Linked DNA regions of Homo sapiens. The protein of the gene in region 4 purifies or fractionates together with the protein of the main gene of each other region. This does not show direct contact. Each region holds a gene or a part of one and is shown on either strand. Other genes may lie near its edges.

What was found. Proteins that work in one complex are often made in the same cells at the same time.
Region 1: the proteins of SYN1 (region 4) and LUC7L3 purify together in Homo sapiens (affinity purification with mass spectrometry, with the first as the bait; one large-scale study listed by BioGRID). This does not show direct contact.
Region 2: the proteins of SYN1 (region 4) and SNAP25 purify together in Homo sapiens (co-immunoprecipitation; one study listed by IntAct). This does not show direct contact.
Region 3: the proteins of SYN1 (region 4) and SAP130 purify together in Homo sapiens (affinity purification with mass spectrometry, with the first as the bait; one large-scale study listed by BioGRID). This does not show direct contact.

The regions. Positions count from the first base shown.
Region 1 is NC_000017.11:50,752,715-50,756,719, reverse strand, and holds the end of LUC7L3 (luc7-like protein 3), read right to left. Parts: 3' UTR 501-4,005; downstream 1-500. UniProt on the Homo sapiens protein: Binds cAMP regulatory element DNA sequence. May play a role in RNA splicing.
Region 2 is NC_000020.11:10,269,884-10,274,329, reverse strand, and holds part of SNAP25 (synaptosomal-associated protein 25), read right to left. Parts: intron 1-4,446.
Region 3 is NC_000002.12:128,014,560-128,019,005, forward strand, and holds part of SAP130 (histone deacetylase complex subunit SAP130), read right to left. Parts: intron 3,357-4,446; coding exon 3,121-3,356; intron 1,989-3,120; coding exon 1,830-1,988; intron 356-1,829; coding exon 244-355; intron 1-243. UniProt on the Homo sapiens protein: Acts as a transcriptional repressor. May function in the assembly and/or enzymatic activity of the mSin3A corepressor complex or in mediating interactions between the complex and other regulatory complexes.
Region 4 is NC_000023.11:47,574,128-47,579,519, reverse strand, and holds part of SYN1 (synapsin-1), read left to right. Parts: intron 1-2,018; coding exon 2,019-2,081; intron 2,082-2,879; coding exon 2,880-3,022; intron 3,023-3,113; coding exon 3,114-3,188; intron 3,189-3,286; coding exon 3,287-3,389; intron 3,390-4,245; coding exon 4,246-4,392; intron 4,393-4,744; coding exon 4,745-4,832; intron 4,833-4,929; coding exon 4,930-5,392. UniProt on the Homo sapiens protein: Neuronal phosphoprotein that coats synaptic vesicles, and binds to the cytoskeleton. Acts as a regulator of synaptic vesicles trafficking, involved in the control of neurotransmitter release at the pre-synaptic terminal.

The DNA.
Region 1 (4,005 bases), on a different chromosome or scaffold from region 4:
TTTTTTTTTTTTTTTTTTTTTTTTTTTGAGACGGAGTCTTGCTCTTGTCGCCGTTTCTAGCTTTTTAAGAGTTACAATTAAGACCTCAATTTGAAGACTGGGCGCGGTGGCTCATACCTGTAATCCCAGCACTTTGGGAGGCCAGGGTGGGCCTGATCATTTGAGGTCAGGAGTTTTGAGACCAGCCTGGACAACATGGTGAAACACTCTACTAAAAATACAAAAAAATGAGCCAGGTGTGGTGGTGCGAAGCTGTAATCCCAGCTACTTGGGAGGCTGAGGCACGAGAATGGCTTGAACCCAGGAGGCGAAAGATGCAGTGAGCTGAGCTCGTGCCACTGCACTCCAGCCTGGGTGACAAGACAGAGACCCTGTCTCAAACAAAATAAAACCTTAAATTGGGCACTCAAGAAACAGCATCTTTAAATTTGTCACTGACTGATGGTTAATTTTACGAAATACACTACAGCTTATATATTAGTAACTACCTACACCAAGACTTTTTTCCCATTCTTCTTTTTAAATTTTATTAAGAAATATCATACATACAAAAGCACATAAACATACAGATTAAAAAAGGAAATGCCCACAGGCTTCAGAAACAGACCCTCACCAGTTCTTCTGAAGACCCCTGTGCCCTCATGATCACCTCTCCCTCCATCAAAACGGCTAACATTAAATTTTGTCTTAATCGTTTCCTTTTATCATGTATTTGACAGCCTGTTTTTGACTTTCATTGAAATGGAACCATAGTGATGTATTCTTCTGTGACTTGCTTTTTTTGATCCTTCTATTGTTGAGTTTTGTCCATGTTCACATACACAGCTGCAGTTCAGTTTCACTTCTGTGGAATTCCACTGTTGGAATATACCACAGTATTTATCCAACACACTGTTGGTGGACACTTGGGATCTTCCCGGGTTTTTTCTTCTTTTCTTCCTATTACACACAAATGCTTAAATCCATCCCCTGGTACGCATGTGTAAGAGTTTCTCTAGGGTATGTATCCGGGAATGAATGGCTACGAGAGAGGTTATGGCACACCCACTTATACCAAATTGTTTCCCGTTTCCCAAAGTTGTTGTTTCTAAACATTCTTAAATCTGTTGACAAATGACCTATTTGGGATGGCTGAGGGGAAGAAATAGATCAGCTACAAAACTCTTGAATTTTTAAAATAGTAAATTCAAAATTCTGATACAACAATGAAAAATACATTTACTTCTCTGCTTTGGCTTACTTGAAATGTACTTTTTAAAACTACAGGTTCAACTTAAAAGTGCTCTCCTTTATCTCAAAATAAATGTTTCTAAATATTACCAGGTAAAAACAGCAAGACTCAGAACATACGGGTATACCGTCATATATTTTGAAAGATCTATACATATATGTTTATATTTCCTCCCACCTCCCATCTCCCCACAAAGAAAACAACTTGGAAGAATAACTGTTAACAGCAGCAAGCTCCTGCAGAGGAAAAACAGAGAAATAGGAGTAGTAGGAGACATAGATCACTGAACACTTTTTTTTTTTAACCATGGGCAACATTACAATTATAATACAAAATTTCAAAAGTAGACCTGGGGTTCTTTCACAAACAACTAAAAAATCCCTCAGGAAATCAAACTTGAAAACCAATCCTGCATGAAGTCCCATCCCACAGAATTGTATACATAATAACTTCAAGTGTTTTTTGTTTCATGCACATATCAGATGTTTAAAAACATATTCACATAGCCCATCTGCAATGCATTTTTAAAAACAGAATGGATGAGGGCTCAGAGAACTTCCACCATAAAAATTTTCAGTTCTTACAAGTCTGAAAACTTTAATCAGAAGGTGGCTGAGCTCAACCAATATGTGGTCCAAGTGTTCTCAGACCTTAGAAATAAGGTTGGTTATTTATCCTCTGTGACACTAACTATATTTAAGGAACCAGAATGCCTAAGGAGAGGGAGTAAAAATATCTGAGCTGAGCAATATGACTAGGTTATTATAAGCTCAAGATCAAGAAAAGGATGTTTCAACCCAAACTGAAAAATGAATGGACTGTGTTTGAAGGGGAAAAAAAAACGTTTTAACAAAAAGGAGCATGATATGTATTATCTCTACATTCCAGAGGAGAGGATGTCTTGAGCAGCAGACTGGTCGGTCCTCTTGAAAGGCTCAATGAAAATTAAACTATTGGACCAGTGCTAATATAGTTTGATGACCAACAAAAGTTTACCCAATTTGTTTTATACTAATGAACTGTTATTTAAGAGGTCTTTGTCTTTTAGAGATACATGCTGAATTATTTACAGATTAAATGGTGTGTCTGAGACTTGCTCGAAAATAATAGAAAACAGTGGATACAAATACAATCACTCATGAAGTATAAAAGTGGTCATGAGTCTTGTTGGTGATGAGTTAACAGAGGTTAATTATATTGTTCCTCTTTTGTGTATGTCTTTAAATTTCCAAAATAAAGTTTTTTTTTTTTTAAGACCAACTGATTGCAGATTCCAAACTTACCAAGCAATCTGATTGATTAAAACTGGTTTGCTCCCCTTAAAGACCTTCCAAAGAGAAAATACATATTCACCAACTAATAACTTTTTGGTCTGCATGGCAGAAATGTTTGTTTCTTCTAGTGAACTGGTCTCAATACTGGATTCTTGTGAGCTGGTTAGCAACAATCAGTTCCTCTTCAGTCACATCAATTTTGGGTGTAAAATTCAACTTCTACGTCTCTCTCCATAACTAAAGCCAGGCCTTAGTCATAGATGTCCTGGGGAGGCAGGTCCTCCTCCCACCACCCCCACATCCCAGGTAACTTCAATAGTTACAATATATCTAAGTGTCCATAGAGGAAGCCTTTTCATATGAACTCATTTATTATACTTCATTTAAGTTAGTTAGACGTTGATTCTAGATGAGGCAGAGCAGAACAAATCTGGTATTTTAGTAACTTCCTAGATTTTTTATTACTTAGGGACAGAATATGGTTTAAAAACTATCACTTTAAGTCCTTTGCTGCTACAACCACAATGCTGTCAAACTACACAAAGCAGTGCCTGGGAGCTATCTTTGTGTTTGTTAGATTTTACTTCCCATTTTATCTTAATCCTCATGTGAATTATCTCTTACAAATTCAGAGATAACCCATTCATCTATTGCTGCATCTCCAGGATCAGCTAGGGAGCCAGGAGGGCTCTGTCTCCACAGCATTTTTTCATACAGAGCCTCTAAAGTGGGGGCGGCTTCATTATTTTTCAAAGTTTGGTGGAAGAGATTTTAGTAAATTCTTTAACAATTCATTATGCCTATTAGAATGAACACAGTGGCTTAACAGGCACTGGACCATGAGGCAGAGACCTAGCAACTCCATAAACATGAAGCCACAGGACCCTCCCTGGATAAGTCATTTAACACACTGTTTCTTTACCTATAAACTGATAGCAGTATTTGCAAGTTATAAACCACAAGGAATTGCTATGATATATATGTATGTGTGTATATACGTAGCTGGAGAGAATACTTTTATACAGTCGAAGAAGCTGGCTATAGATAGAAACATGCTGCCGGTTTTCCTAGATGTGACACAAAAATAATCACTTAAGTGGGGGGAAAAAACCCTTGCCATATATACTACACACCCTATACACAAATACATTTATAAACTGACACAGCTGGGTTAATCTTGATACAGGACTTAACAAAAACTAGCTCTTGAATGCTTTTCTACATCATCCCATAGCTAGCCAGCTAAAGAGTGCTTGTCAGGATACTTGGAATTTTCTACTAAATGAATCTCTCAGGGATGTAAAAATATATTCTAGTTCACTGCACATCTTTGCTATTAAAAGCAAAATTCAAATTTATTCATAACCACCTAAAATTGAAGCACCATTATTTAAAACATTAGAAAGTCTATAAAAATTAGTCTTAAACAGAACAAATCAGATAAAACTGTACACCAACACCTCTAGTAATAGTGTAACTCTTGTATTTAAAACAGGGGAC
Region 2 (4,446 bases), on a different chromosome or scaffold from region 4:
TCAGTCATCATCAGAGGTTGCCAAAAGGGCTTGTGTGAGGGTGAGCTGCTATCACTCCAAAGAGGGTGGGTCCTTGGTCCTGAAAGGTGACCAGTCCATTTCTTGGCTACTCTCTTGAAATCCCACATGGTACAAATGACAGGTACAAGGACTGGGTCTATTCCGGAGAGAGCCCTCCTTCCTCCTTCCTTCTCAAATATTTATTGAGCACCTGTAATATGCCAGGCAGTGTTAGGCACTAGGGATACAGTGATGGACAAGATAGGCAAATTCCCTGCCTTTACAGAATTCAGTCTAATTGGGGAGATGCAAGCAAAAGAGGGAATTAGATGATTCAGGATGATGATAATTACACTAGGGGACATGTCTGGTATCATGGGTGCCCATGGGTTTGCAACAGGCCTTTCTGAGGAAGCCATGTCCCCAGGCCATCGAAGGGAAGGGGGCAAAGGGCCCGATGGGGTAGGTATCTGATAGAATGAAAAATTCTCTGTGAGTAGCACATTTGAAGAAGGCATGGGCTCTTGTCTTGTAGCGGAGATGGTCAACTGTGCACTTTAACCTCACTGTTGCATGGTAGAGCATGATCTCTGGGAAATGGCTGTGCAGCCAGGAATTACATTTCTAATTCCCATTGCAAGGAAGTGGTGCTCTGTGGCTAGAGACAGTCCATGAGTGGTAGTAGAACAAAGTGTGTCCCTGTCAGTCTAAGGCAGTTCAGAAGCAGGTATTCTCCTCCCTCTGTTTCTCCTTCTGCCAGAAATACAGTCTTAAAGGATGGTTAAGCCATGAGACCATGAGACAGAAGGAACTTGGGCCCTCCATATCCCTGCATGGAGAAAAATGACTCCTGGCCAGTAACACCTGAACTCTTACGTGAGCAAACAATATATTTCTATTATGCTATGGAAAATGTGAGGGTTGTTTTGTTATAGCAGCCTGTGTTACACTAACTAGTAAATGTCTGAAGAAACTTAAAATGAAACAGAAACATTGCATATGAGCATGATTTCCTAACCAAAAAACATATTTTTGTTTGTCTTTCTATTGAAAACCGAAGCTGGGAGAGGAAATTAGATTTGGGGCCTTGGGGCACTACCATGTTTATTATTATTATTATTTGCATGAGAATGAGAATCACTTTTCGGAAAAATAAAAATGAAAATTCTGTATGAAAAAAAAAATCAGGAACATACTCATTGGGAGGCAAGGGAACAAAAGTTCCCAGAGGCAGGTCCTAGATCTGATCCTGGGGGAGGAGGCTCTGCCATCTCACCCTCCAGGTCCACGATTCTATTGCTTTCTCAACAAGGATGGAATTTTAGTACATATTAATATCACTTTCCAAATTTATTGCTCTTGTGAAAAAGGAGAAATCATACTCTTTAGGGTTCTTAGAAGGAATCCTAAAGTGAAACTTCTTTGGAGATAACAGGTTTCACCGTTCTCTACCCAGTGATTGCCGGGCAAAGCAACAAATATGGAATCTGAGTAAAAAAAGAAATAACAAAACTTCAGGGTTGCCTTATTCTACCACTGGCATTAAACAAATAATGGAGTAAGTTTATGTGAGGTTAGCTTTATGGGCAGTCATTTTATAACTGACAGAGCATCTTACGATGAGCCTGCTAATTTTCGAATGCGTGTTCTGGCCACTAGAACATGTGCTCGTGAGATGATGTAGAGATGTGAACACTGTGTTTTATTTAAATACATGAGACTTTATTTCCATGTCTCCATTTTACAAATTAGGATCTAGAAAACAGACACTGGAAGGAATTTACACCAAGTCACTCCAGAATCTTAAGATGCACAAAAATGAAATTTTAGTATTCCCAAGTGACCGGGGATCTACCCTCCAGAATAAAGCAGTGGACCCGTGGGGAAGTTGAGTAGACTATGGACCATAGTTCAGTGGAGTGGGTGGATAAAGGCATTGATGTCAGAAAGACCCAGCTGGACCGCTGGCTCTGGCGCTCAGAAGCTGGGTGAGTCTGGGTAAGTTCATCACCATCTCTGAGCTTTAGTTTTCTCAACAGGACAAACAATGCCAATCTCATGGGGTTGTTGAGGGGAATAAATTACAGAAAAGTTCTGGCCAACATTTTTTGTAAAAAAGGATGTGGAGCTTAATATTCAGAAAGCCTCACTAATTCAGGACAGCCCTACACCCTTGGCTAAGAGTGGAACAAACCCGGTATTTGTTAATCAGCTTTCCTCTACTAACGGCTAGGCACAAGACATGTTGCTGTGGTGCTGAGCACCCATGGAAGCTTGAAACCAGGGAAACCAGCAGAGTGCCTGAGCCTCCAGTCTCCAAGCAGCACCTCTCACAGGAGTACCACGAGGAGACAAACAAGAGTGCCTTCTGGCCCCACGCTCCATCTTTATATTTTGCTGCTGGGTTCCTGGGGGGGAAATGTGTATCTTCGGCCTAAGCAAGCCATTGACCTTTCCTTTTCACAGGCCAGTTTATTAGAAGGCAGGGGTCCATGTGCTTTCAGACTTGTAGTGCTATTGCTCTGTCCCACTCCTTCAGGTCTATTTGCTGATGAATGTTTCTGTGCATGCTCTCTCTCTTCTCTCTCTCTCTCTCGCTCTCCCTCTCTCTCACACATACTCAAGTTTCCTGTGTTTCCTTGGCAATCTCCTCTCAAAGTTGTTATTCTCAGCATGTGAAGAACAGCTGTAGGGCGCCCTGGCTCCAAGCTGACAGCAGCCTATCCAGGCCTGGCTGATGGGCAGCTGGTGCGATGGCGGAGAAGCCATGTGGCAGATACCCTTGGTTTCATCACTTTCACGGTTCCCCCAGGAACTCCCACACCTTTGTCCTGCTCTAAAACATGGAGATACGTCTGTGATTTGGGAGGAGGGCTGATGAATCTGGTGGATCTCAAACACACAGCATTTCAAAGCTGAAAAAGCAATTCCCCCTCTCCTAATAAGAACGGCTGGAGAGTGGGCGCTGAGCGTACCTCCAGATCTTCTGTTGGGATGTTTACTGCTAGTGTTTAATAAATTGTTCCTATAAACCCCAAACTCATGCATGTTAGCATTCTAAAAGACAGCAGCTGAAGAGGCATAAGGATGTTTATTAATAGTAATTTCAGTAGCTGAAAGGACGTTAGTAGTGAAGTGGCATTTATGATCAAGGCAGCCTGCAATACATCCCTCATATTAGCACAATAAACTGCCATCTTGTGTGTTGCAGAGCAGGTAGAAAGAGGAAACTAGGAAGCAGAAGAAATTAGGAAGAAAAGCCACTCAAAACTATTCCCCGAGGCTCTGATTGTAAGACAAACTCCCAGTCTATTAAGAGCCTAACAGTATCTAATTAATTATCTCAAATCACCAGTGCTTATTAGCAAAGGGTCTGACCCCTAGTAAGGGTTCAATTCATGTTAACTGACATGGATGAACTGTTCTGACACTCCCATGTAGCATTCAGTGTTCCCAAATCAGCACTTTACAAGGTGTGGTCCAGGACAGAGCTTCTGAAACTTCCCCCAGAGTCAGAATATGCAGAAACCTTGTTAAAATGGATTGCTGGGCCCTACCCTCAGGGATTCTAATTCAGTTGGTCTGAAATGGGGTCACTGATTCTGCATTTCTTTCTTTCTTTTTTTTTTTTGAGACAGAGTTTCACTCTGTCACCTTGGCTGGAGTGCAGTGGTGCCATCTCAGCTCACTGCAACCTCTGCCTCCTGGTTCAAGTAATTCTGCTGCCTCAGCCTCCCAAGCAGCTGGGATTACAGGTGCATGCCACCACGCCCAGCTAATTTTTTGTATTTTTAGTAGAGATAGGGTTTCACCATGTTGGCCAGGCTGGTCTCGAACTCCTCACCTCAAGAGATCCACCTGCCTTGGCCTCCCAAAGTGCTGGTATTACAGGCGTGAGCCATCGTGGCCAGCTGATTCTGCATTTCCAGCCAGCCTTCAGGTGATGCTGAAGCTGCTGGTTCACAGAGCACACGTTGAGTAGCTCTGGTCTGTAGGACCTTCTCTCTTGGAATGTTCATGAGCATCACCAGGTGGGGTGGTGGGAGTCCTGTAGTTTTTTCTTCTTGCTGTTTTTGAGATAGAGTTTCGCTCTTGTTGCCCAGGCTGGAGTGCAATGGCATGATCTCGGCTCACCACAACCTCTGCCTCCCAGATTTCAAGCAATTCTCCTCCCTCGGCCTCCCAAGTAGCTGGGATTACAGGCATGCACCACCACGCCAGGCTAATTTTGTATTTTTAGTAGAGACGGGGTTTCTCCATGTTGGTCAGGCTGGTTTCGAACTCCTGACCTCAGGTGATCCGCCCGCCTCGGCCTCCCAAAGTGCTGGGATGACAGGCGTAAGCCACCGTGCCGGGCTGGAGTCCTATAGTTATATAGAGTGGGAAACAAGGGGCAGGCTACATTAACCAGGGGCTTTCGGGAAGTTAGGGCCCACGGGCCAAATC
Region 3 (4,446 bases), on a different chromosome or scaffold from region 4:
TTCCTGGACTCAAGTGAACCTACCACCTCAGCCTCCCAAAGTGTTGGGTTTATAGACATGAACCGCAGCACCTGGCCTTTTTTTCTTTTTAAATAAAAGAGGTTTATTTGGTTCACGGTTCTGCAGACTGTTGTTCTGCAACTTTAACAAGCTGATTCTAGATACATTCTGTGTTACGTATTTTACCAAATGTATATCTACTACTACATTTTGAGAGTTTGAACAAAACTTGCAAGTCGTTACCTCGAGGTAAATGAGAAGCTCCAATGTGAAGAGGGGGCCCAGGAGCATTGCTGCGGATGATAGACATTTGCACATTTGTAGTCATGATGTGATGCAGGTTACTGGGATGGCCCTGAAAGAAAGAGGATAGAACGTTATTTTTACATGTTTGCTCTTAGCCATTGCCTCTAGGAAGTCACCTGCCTCCAAATGTGGGTCAGGTTGTTTTTTAGATAGTGAGTATCCCAAGAGAAAGGGCTAAGGACATTCAGCTTGAGCTACTTTTACATGCCATACCGTACAATGAACTGTGCTAACAGGCATGTGAGAAGTATGAGGACCCCACAACTGCTGCAGGCCCACATAATTACAGATAATATACTTCGATATCTACGTTTAGAAACTCTCATCTGCGATATTACCTTTCACACTTGTTTTCCCTGTTCTGGCCAAATGCTTATTTTTTTTCCCATTCTCACTATTTCCTTTACATACCACTGCATCCATCCATTCTTTAAGCTTTTTTGTTTCTAAGTAAATGTCAGTTGGTATCCAACAGGTGCTCCCTACCAGTTCTTCAGCTCAACCCTGAAATGTCCCTTACATTCTCCCAAACCACAGAGTTCAGGGCTTCTCAGCTAAGGGTTCTGGTACTTCTGAGAGTACTCAGCAGTATGACAAAAGGAAAAAACACAGTACACCTCTTTGGGATATAAATTTTTCTTGAAAATGTGAAGGGAAAGTTTTTAGATTTAGTTTTTTTCCCCAGGTAAAAAATGTAAAATATTTAATTAATCAGGTACACAGCAGAGTAGGATTGCAAAATTTCACAAAAAAACCTTAAAACAGAAGACTTCAGAATAAATGTTCGCAACTAAGGCTGGGTGCGGTGGCTCATGCCTGTAATCCCAGCACTTTGGGAGGCCGAGGCGGGCAGATCATTTGAGGTCAGGAGTTGGAGACCAGCCTGGCCAACATGGTGAAACCCCGTCTCTATTAAAATAAAAAAATTAGCTGGGGGTGGTGGTGCCCGCTTGTAATCCTAGCTACTCGGGAGGCTGAGGCAAGAGAATGGCTCGAACACGGGACGTGGACGTTGCTGTGAGCCAAGACTGCACCACTACACTCCAGCTTGGGTGACACCGTGAGATTCTGTCTCAAAAAAAAAAAAAAAAAAGTTTGGAACTAGAGAGCTGCTTGAGGTAACCTATCCCAAGAGATGCACATCTGCTCTCCTCAGAGAAACCACAGAGCAGCACTGCCTACCCCCGGAAGGCAGTTCTTGACGCTAAAACCAAACACGAACCGGACTCCGGACTCCTCAAGGACACGGACTGTTTTATCTAGATTTATATATCACACTAGGGTCGAATCGAGCATCTAGTAGCTGCTCAATAAATTCTAGCTAAATGACCACTATGGACACTGGCTTCTACTCCCTTTACAGTTATCCTTCTCTCTCAAACCTACTATCTTCACTTGCAGGTATCAGTGACTGTTTGATCTTTTTTTATTACCGTGACTAATGTACTGCTAGCATTCAATAAATCATGATCAACAGTTTGGCATTTCAGTTTGAAAATCAGCAAATTAAAAGGAAGAAAAACCTGTTGTCCACTGATTGTTGCCACAGGAATGGCTGAAGCTTGAGGGATGCTACTCTCCATGGTAACGGTAACCTGCCCTGGAACCTTGGGGGGAAGTGACAGGGTAGAAGGTGGAGCAGGAGCAATGGGACGGCTAGGCATGGTGGGCTTCGGGGGCGGCTGCAAACAGAAAACCACACAAAACATATCAATGGCCTCATACTGGTGATGCATTTCAATCCACAATTAAGAGTGCACAAATCGAACCTGGAAAGTGCCAGGAAAGATGCCGTAAGCTTTATACATTTTATCTATTATCATCACAGTGTTTCCACTGAAGTACTAGCATTTCTATTTCACAGATAAAGAAACATACAAAGCAAGGCTAACTGACTTGCTCAAAGCCACACACACAGTAAGAAGTAGAACTGGGAATAAAGCCCAGAGCTGTATGGCTCACAGCCCACACCCTTTCTTCTACATGATGCTGCCTCCCAAGTTTGGGTGGATTGAACAAAACTCCCAGTAACTGAAACACAACCCCAAGGTAATACACAGGCAATATTCTCAGAAACCCCCAAATTAACCAGTTATTAAAACAAACCTTAAAGAAGAGTGCCACTCCACTTGGTCCCATGGTACTGGGTTATCTGAACTTATAACATTACTGTCAGCTGGGCACAGTGGCTCACGCCTGTAATCCCAGCAATCTGGGAAGCTAAGGCGGGCAGACCACTTGAGGCCAGGAGTTTGAGACCAGCCTGGCCGACATGGTGAAACGCCATCTCTACTAAAAATACAAAAATTAGCCAGGCGTAGTGACGTGCGCCTGTAATACCAGCTACTTGGGAGGCTGAGGCTGCAGAACCGCTTGAACCTTGGAGGTGGAAGTTGCAGTGAGCCAAGATCGCACCACTGCACTCCAGCCTGGATGACAGAGAAAGACTCCGTCTCAAATAAAAACAGAAACAAAACATTAATGTCATTAAGCCCCCACTGCTAAATCTGACTGGCTTAAAAAAAAAAGAGGGTCCCTTCAAGATTGTATCTAACTTAACATGCCCATAAGTTGAATAATATCAGTATCAAAATGGATAACAGCAAAGATCCTATGATGCCAACTGCCCAGCAGCACAAGACAAGGCACTGCAGAAAATCAGGGCTGAGTTACAGAAAGGAGCTGAACTCATATGTCATAAAGAAAAAATGAAATGTGATCCTAAGATACAGCCTAAGATTTTATACAAATTGTTACAAACATTAGCCAGTCTCGAGCTCTGGTTCAGTGTGAAGTTTTAACCCTCTCCATTACCTTCATAAGTCCCTCCGAAAATGAAAGTGGCACTGCTGGCGTCAGGTGTGCTGGCGGGGCTGTCACTGCAACAGGTGTGGCTGATGCGACAGCATGGTGTGTCGACAACATCTGCACCTGTGGATAGGGCCTTACCACAACAGGCTCTTGCTTCTCCTCCCGGGACTGGAGGGAGCTGCTGGAACTCATGTGCTCCCTGGCACTGACTTCAGAATCTCGACCAGATTCATCATTGACTAGTAAAGACATTAAGAGTGAGACAGTATGTCACAGTCTCCCAGTGTAAGATAGCAGCACAGACAAGAGTGGTACCTGAAGTTAAATCTCAGGATTGACAAAGTGGCCATTTCCTTGTGATGTTTTCTTAACAAGGTCAATATGGGCACTGGATTCTCCTGATGGACATCAGACAAAAGAGCCACAACTGTGGAATATAGAATTTATTCTGGATATTGTAGCCTTATGAACAAACTACCTGAAAATCATCTAAAATGAGCTGAAATAGTTAAAAGTACAATACAGGATGTAAGACAATTTCATTTAAAACATCCTCTTAGAAAGTTATAAAAGCCTGACATTAAAAAGATATTTTATGCTGGCCAACATGGCAAAACCCTATCTCTACTAAAAATACAAAAAAAAAAAAAAAAAACAAACCAAAAACCAAAAACCACGTTTTTTTGTAATCCCAGCTACTTGGGAGGCTAAGGTGGGAGGATCACCTGAGCCCAAAAGGCAGAGGTTGCAGTGAGCCAAGATTCCGTCACTGCACTCTAGCCTGGGCGAGAGAGGAAGATTGTCTCCAAAAAAAAAAAAAAAAAAAAAAAGGATGGCTGGTGCAGTGGCTTGCACCTGCAATCCTAGCATTTTGAGAGGCCAAGGCAAACAGATCCCTTGAACCCAGGAGTTCAAGACCAGCCTTGGCAACACAGTAAGACTCCATCTCTGCAAAAAATTTTAAAATTAAATGGGCATGGTGGCATGCACCCGTAATCCCAGCTATATTGGAGGCAGAGGGAGGAGGATCACTTAACCCTGGGAGGTCAAGGCTGCAGTGAGCCAAGCCATGATTGTGCCACTGCACTCCAGCTTGGATGACACAGTGAGACTTTGTCTCAAAAAAAAAAAAAAAAGGTGGTTGGGGGCTGAGCACAGCCTGTAATCCTAGCACTTTGGGAAACCAAGGCAGGTGGATCATTTGAAGTCAGGAGTTCCAGGCCAGCCTGACCAACGTGGTGAAACCCCGTCTCTACTAAAAATACAAAAAAATTAGCCGGGCGTGGTGGTACACACCTATAATCTCAGCTACTAGGGAAGATGAGGCAG
Region 4 (5,392 bases):
GGGGGTCCAGGAGGCATGTGCAAAGCGGACACCTGACAATGCCCACAGCATACCAGGTGCTTGGGCCTCATTGTGCTCTTTGTGCAGATGGGGAAACTGAGGCTCAGGGAGAGGTTGTGTCCTTCATGGCCTTAGGAAGAAGAAAGGCCAAAATTCAGACCTAGGGCTTTCCAGGAGCTCCCAGAGTCAGAGTTCAAAGCACTCTGCATGCACACATGTATGGGCACACACACATATACAGAGCGTTGTGTTCAGGCTCAAGTCCAGAGAAAACAAGGACAGTTAACGAAAAGAGGCACCTAGAAACCTCAGGGTTGTTGGGGGAGGTATGGGTGTGTACGCACAGCTCTCTGGTGTGTTGTGTGTCCATTGCTAAGAGTCGAGCATGTGCCTGTGTGTTTTGTGTGTTACTTCTGGGAGTTGTCTACCAGCCTCGGCAAAGCGGATCTGGGTTGCATATGTAACTGAGTGCATTATGCACTTCTGTGTGCTGTGCGCACACCTGGGTGGTACTGTATGCATCCGCCTCGGCATCGTTTCCCTGGCCCGCTGCCCAGAGATGCCCCAAACCCCCGTCCCAACATCGTGCCTCTCAGCCCACCTCATAATGACGCCAGTCATTTGGGAAATGAGGAAGGGGGGGTGTGCAGAGGGAGGCCTTAAGGTCAATCGGTCACCCTGAGTCTGCGGGCTTCCTGTGCCTGTCGGGAACTGGGAACCACCACCGCCCCAGCAGCCCCTCCGGGAATGCCATCTCTCTACCTTGTCAGCGAGAGGGAGGGCCACCAGAGGGGCACTGTGCAGCTGTGCTGTGGGGGTGGGGGTGGAGGGAGCGGGGAGCCTAGGGCCGTCCAACCTGGTTTCCTCTACCCCATCCAGGAGCGGGGGAGACTTGAGGTATCCCTCTCGCCTGAATGTGTGACTGTATGTGTGTTGGGGTGGGAGTGCCCAGGAATGTTTTCTGCAAACTGAGTTGTGGGTGTCTCTGGTTGTGTGTAGCCTCTCTGTATTGTATATGTGGCAAGGCATGTTGTGTGTGTGTCTAGATATACTTTTTGTATGCCCAGGAATGTGGCGTGGGTCTCTTACGGGTCCCAGTGGTGATGTGAATACCTAGAAGTGCATACACCTCTGTGTGTTGTGTAGGGCCTTATTTGCTGTGCATTTGCCTAGGGGTGTTTTATGTGTGCCTGTGTGTTGAGTATGTGCCCGGTTCTGTGGAGTGTGCCTGTGGAGTTGTGTGTCTCTTGATTGGACGGGTAATCTTTTGTGTTGTGTGTGTTCCCCTGATGGTGATGTGGGTTTGGGTGAGGGGAGGGAACCTGGGTGTGTGCCCAAGTATTGATTGTGTGCCTAAGGGTGTCCAGTGTGTGCTGCCCTGGAGTGCTGGCTGCTGACCCACGCTATGGGCACCTGGCTGGCTGAATGACTGTGTGGGTGTCTGTGCTGCTCCAGAGCTCATGTGCTTTGAGCCTGTGTTGGCTGTCAGTCTCAATGTCACTGGCATCTCTGGGTTTGGCGATGTACATCTGAGTTCCAAGGGCTCATGCCTCTCAATAGTTTATGTGTGCAGGTGAGGCTTACATACAAGGTTTGGCTGAGGGGTTCAGTCACTACATGCTCACCACCACTCCCCACCCCCCCCACCCCCACACACACGCACTGGCACACACTTGCCTCACTATCATCCATCCACTGTAAAAACAAACTTTCTTTTTACTGGAACAGTCCCCCACGCTCATACCATGCCTCTGCCCGGGAAAGCAGGGGCGGGACGTCTGGAACTTGTTGGTGGGGTGGAGTGAGGGACAGACAGACAGGGCTCTGGGTTCAATTCTGGGCCCGGAGGTGGAGACACTGTGTGACCCCCAGCTGCTGCCTGCCTGTCTCTGACCTGTGTGTCCTGGGAAGTGACTCATAATGCAGTTCCCACTGGCTGGGATCCCCTCAGTGCCGCCCCACCCCTGGAGGTCACCCTTTCTGCCCTGAGCATGTCTCCTCTGCCTTTTCCCCACCAGCTCAGCAGTACAACGTACCCCGTGGTTGTGAAGATGGGGCACGCACACTCTGGGATGGGCAAGGTGAGTCTCTGGCTGGGCTGTGCATAGGTAGATGTGTATTTGTGCAATGCACACCAGTCATTCTGTGTGATCGCGTCTCCTGGGGTGTCGTTATCTATCAGGTTGGTGCAAAAGTAATTGCGGGTTTTGCCAGTTCTTATGGTAAAAACCACAATTACTTTTGCACCAACCTAATAGATTTTTGTTTTCTCACATTCAGCTGACCTCATCGACCCCTTTTTCCTCCTGCATTCAGCCAATTTTGTGTGTCCTGTTATTTTGCTTGTCTCCAGCATCGTGTCTGTGTGTACATGCATGCCTGTGCCGAACACACATGATGTGGTGTGATCTTTTATGTTCCAAAGTCTTGGGGTCCTGTGTGCTTTACATCCATCTGATTTTGTCTCTGTGTACGTAGAAAGTAGACTTGTAATTTGTGTCCGAGTTTCTGTATCTTAGCATGTTGTGTGTACAATTGATTTTGTGTCTGGATGCCTATATTAGTATATTGTACATACACAGTTTTTTCACAGCTTTAGTGAGAGATAGTTCACACACCCTACAACTCACCCATTTAAAGTAGACAATCCAATACATTTTGGTATGCTCAGTGTTCTACACACCCAACTTTGTGCCTGTGTGCTCACATACAAAACAGGAGACCCATGATCGTGCCTGCTTGAGCGCCTTGGCATGTCCACCTAATTTTTGTGTACTCGCCTCACCTGTGTGTCATGTATACATGCTCCCCCAGGCACCCCCACTCCCCACAGCTGCCCTATCCTGACCAGGCCCTGATCCTTGCCCGCACTTCCACAGGTCAAGGTTGACAACCAGCATGACTTCCAGGACATCGCAAGTGTCGTGGCACTGACCAAGACGTATGCCACTGCCGAGCCCTTCATCGATGCCAAATATGACGTGCGTGTCCAGAAGATTGGGCAGAACTACAAGGCCTACATGTGAGTGGAGAGACCAAAGCCCTGGAAGGGGTCCCCTGCCTTGCCTCATGCAGCTGAGGCACCCCTGAGCTTCTGTCCCCTTGTCCCCCAGGAGGACGTCAGTGTCAGGGAACTGGAAGACCAATACTGGCTCTGCGATGCTGGAGCAAATTGCCATGTCTGACAGGTGGGCAGCCCGAACTCAGGGTGTGAGGGGAAGCGGGGGTGGGAGCACGACAGCTCAGGTGAGAGACTGACAGGCTTCCCCACCCTTTGTCTTGGCAGATACAAGCTGTGGGTGGACACGTGCTCAGAGATTTTTGGGGGACTGGACATCTGCGCAGTGGAAGCGCTACATGGCAAGGACGGAAGGGATCACATCATTGAGGTATGAGCACCCAGGGGTAGGTGGGGTAGAGGGAGGAACAGATGCCAGGCAGCAGCAGTGCAAACTGAAGCACTCCATGGCACAGAGGTCCTCAGCCAACAGCAATGTGCTTAGTACACTGTAAGGTGCCTGACGAACTTTCGAAGGGGCCATCCCTTGCAATGGCAGAACACTAGACTGAACTTGCACGTCCCTGGTGACTAGCAAAACCCTTATTAGATTGTTTAGTGCTCTGCGAATCGAGACATCTTGGTGAATGGCGAGGCACTTAGTAACCTTTAAAGTATTCTGCGAACTGGACCGACAGCAAAGCATTTTGGAAAGGACAAAGCACCTAGAAAACCGTGAAGCAGGGATCGGCAAACATTTTCTGTAAAGGAGCAGACGGTACATATTTTAGGCTTTGTAGGCCACGTAGCCTCTGCCGTAACTACTCAACTCTGCAAAAGCAGCCATAGACGATATGTTAAAAAAATAAGTGTGGCTGTGTTCCAATAAAACTTTGTTTATGGACATTGAAATTTAAATTTCATGCCATTTTCGCATGTTATAAAATCTTTCGATTTTTTTCAACTGTTACAAAATTTAAAGACCCATCCTTAGCTCTGGGTCATACAGAACCAGGTGGTCGGCCAGGTTGGGCCCATGGGCCCTAATTTGCTGAGCCCTGCTCTGAAGCACCTTCTAAGCTGTAAGGTACCTTGGAACAGACAAGCCTTCCTCACCGTGCACAATCAGTGCCTCAGACACTGGGGCTCAGCGGCGGCCATGCCCTTGGCCAACTGAAAGCACGGTGTTACTGCCGCCTCAGGTGCGAGGCCTGCCTCTCCCCTCACGGATCCTTTCCTTCCCCCAGGTGGTGGGTTCCTCCATGCCGCTCATTGGTGACCACCAGGATGAAGACAAACAGCTCATCGTAGAGCTCGTGGTCAACAAGATGGCTCAGGCCCTGCCCCGGCAGCGACAGCGGGATGCCTCCCCTGGCAGGGGCTCCCATGGCCAGGTCAGGCCCCTGGCGCTGAGCTAGTGGCTTGAGCTAGTGTGGGGAGGCCGGCCCTGGGTCATGCTGTGCCATGAAGCTGATAATCTGTAGGCTCACAGCATCACCTTTGCACACATGTGGCTGCGATTGCCAATTGTTTAAAACATTGATAAGCAGCTGCTGCCCTGACTTCCCTGAGCACCTCCCTGCCCCGCCCCTGGGAACAGGTCCCCCACCCCACAACCCAGAGTACCCTCAGCTCAGCCACAAGTGGGGCAACACCCAGCGCACAGGGAACCTGTGTCATCACTGGCTGATGCTCCACTGGCTGGTAACTATTTTTAACCTCTCCTGCTCCATTCCTCTGCCGCAGACTCCGTCCCCAGGGGCCCTGCCCTTGGGCCGCCAGACCTCCCAGCAGCCCGCAGGGCCCCCGGCTCAGCAGCGACCCCCACCACAGGGTAAGCGAGAGGCTGGCGGTCGCAGTCCCCTCCCTCAGCCCGCCATCTCTTACCCGCTCACTCTCACGTGTGCTCTTTCTCTCCCTCTGTCCCCCAGGCGGCCCTCCACAGCCGGGTCCAGGCCCCCAGCGCCAGGGACCCCCATTGCAGCAGCGCCCGCCCCCGCAGGGCCAGCAGCACCTTTCAGGCCTTGGACCCCCAGCTGGCAGCCCCCTGCCCCAGCGCCTTCCAAGTCCCACCTCAGCGCCCCAGCAGCCCGCGTCCCAGGCCGCGCCGCCGACCCAGGGTCAAGGCCGCCAATCCCGGCCAGTGGCGGGAGGCCCCGGGGCGCCTCCAGCAGCCCGCCCGCCCGCCTCTCCGTCTCCCCAGCGCCAGGCGGGCCCCCCACAGGCTACCCGTCAGACATCCGTCTCTGGCCCGGCTCCGCCAAAGGCCTCTGGGGCCCCACCGGGCGGGCAGCAGCGCCAGGGCCCGCCCCAGAAACCCCCAGGCCCAGCCGGCCCCACACGCCAGGCCAGCCAGGCGGGTCCCGTGCCCCGCACTGGGCCACCCACCACGCA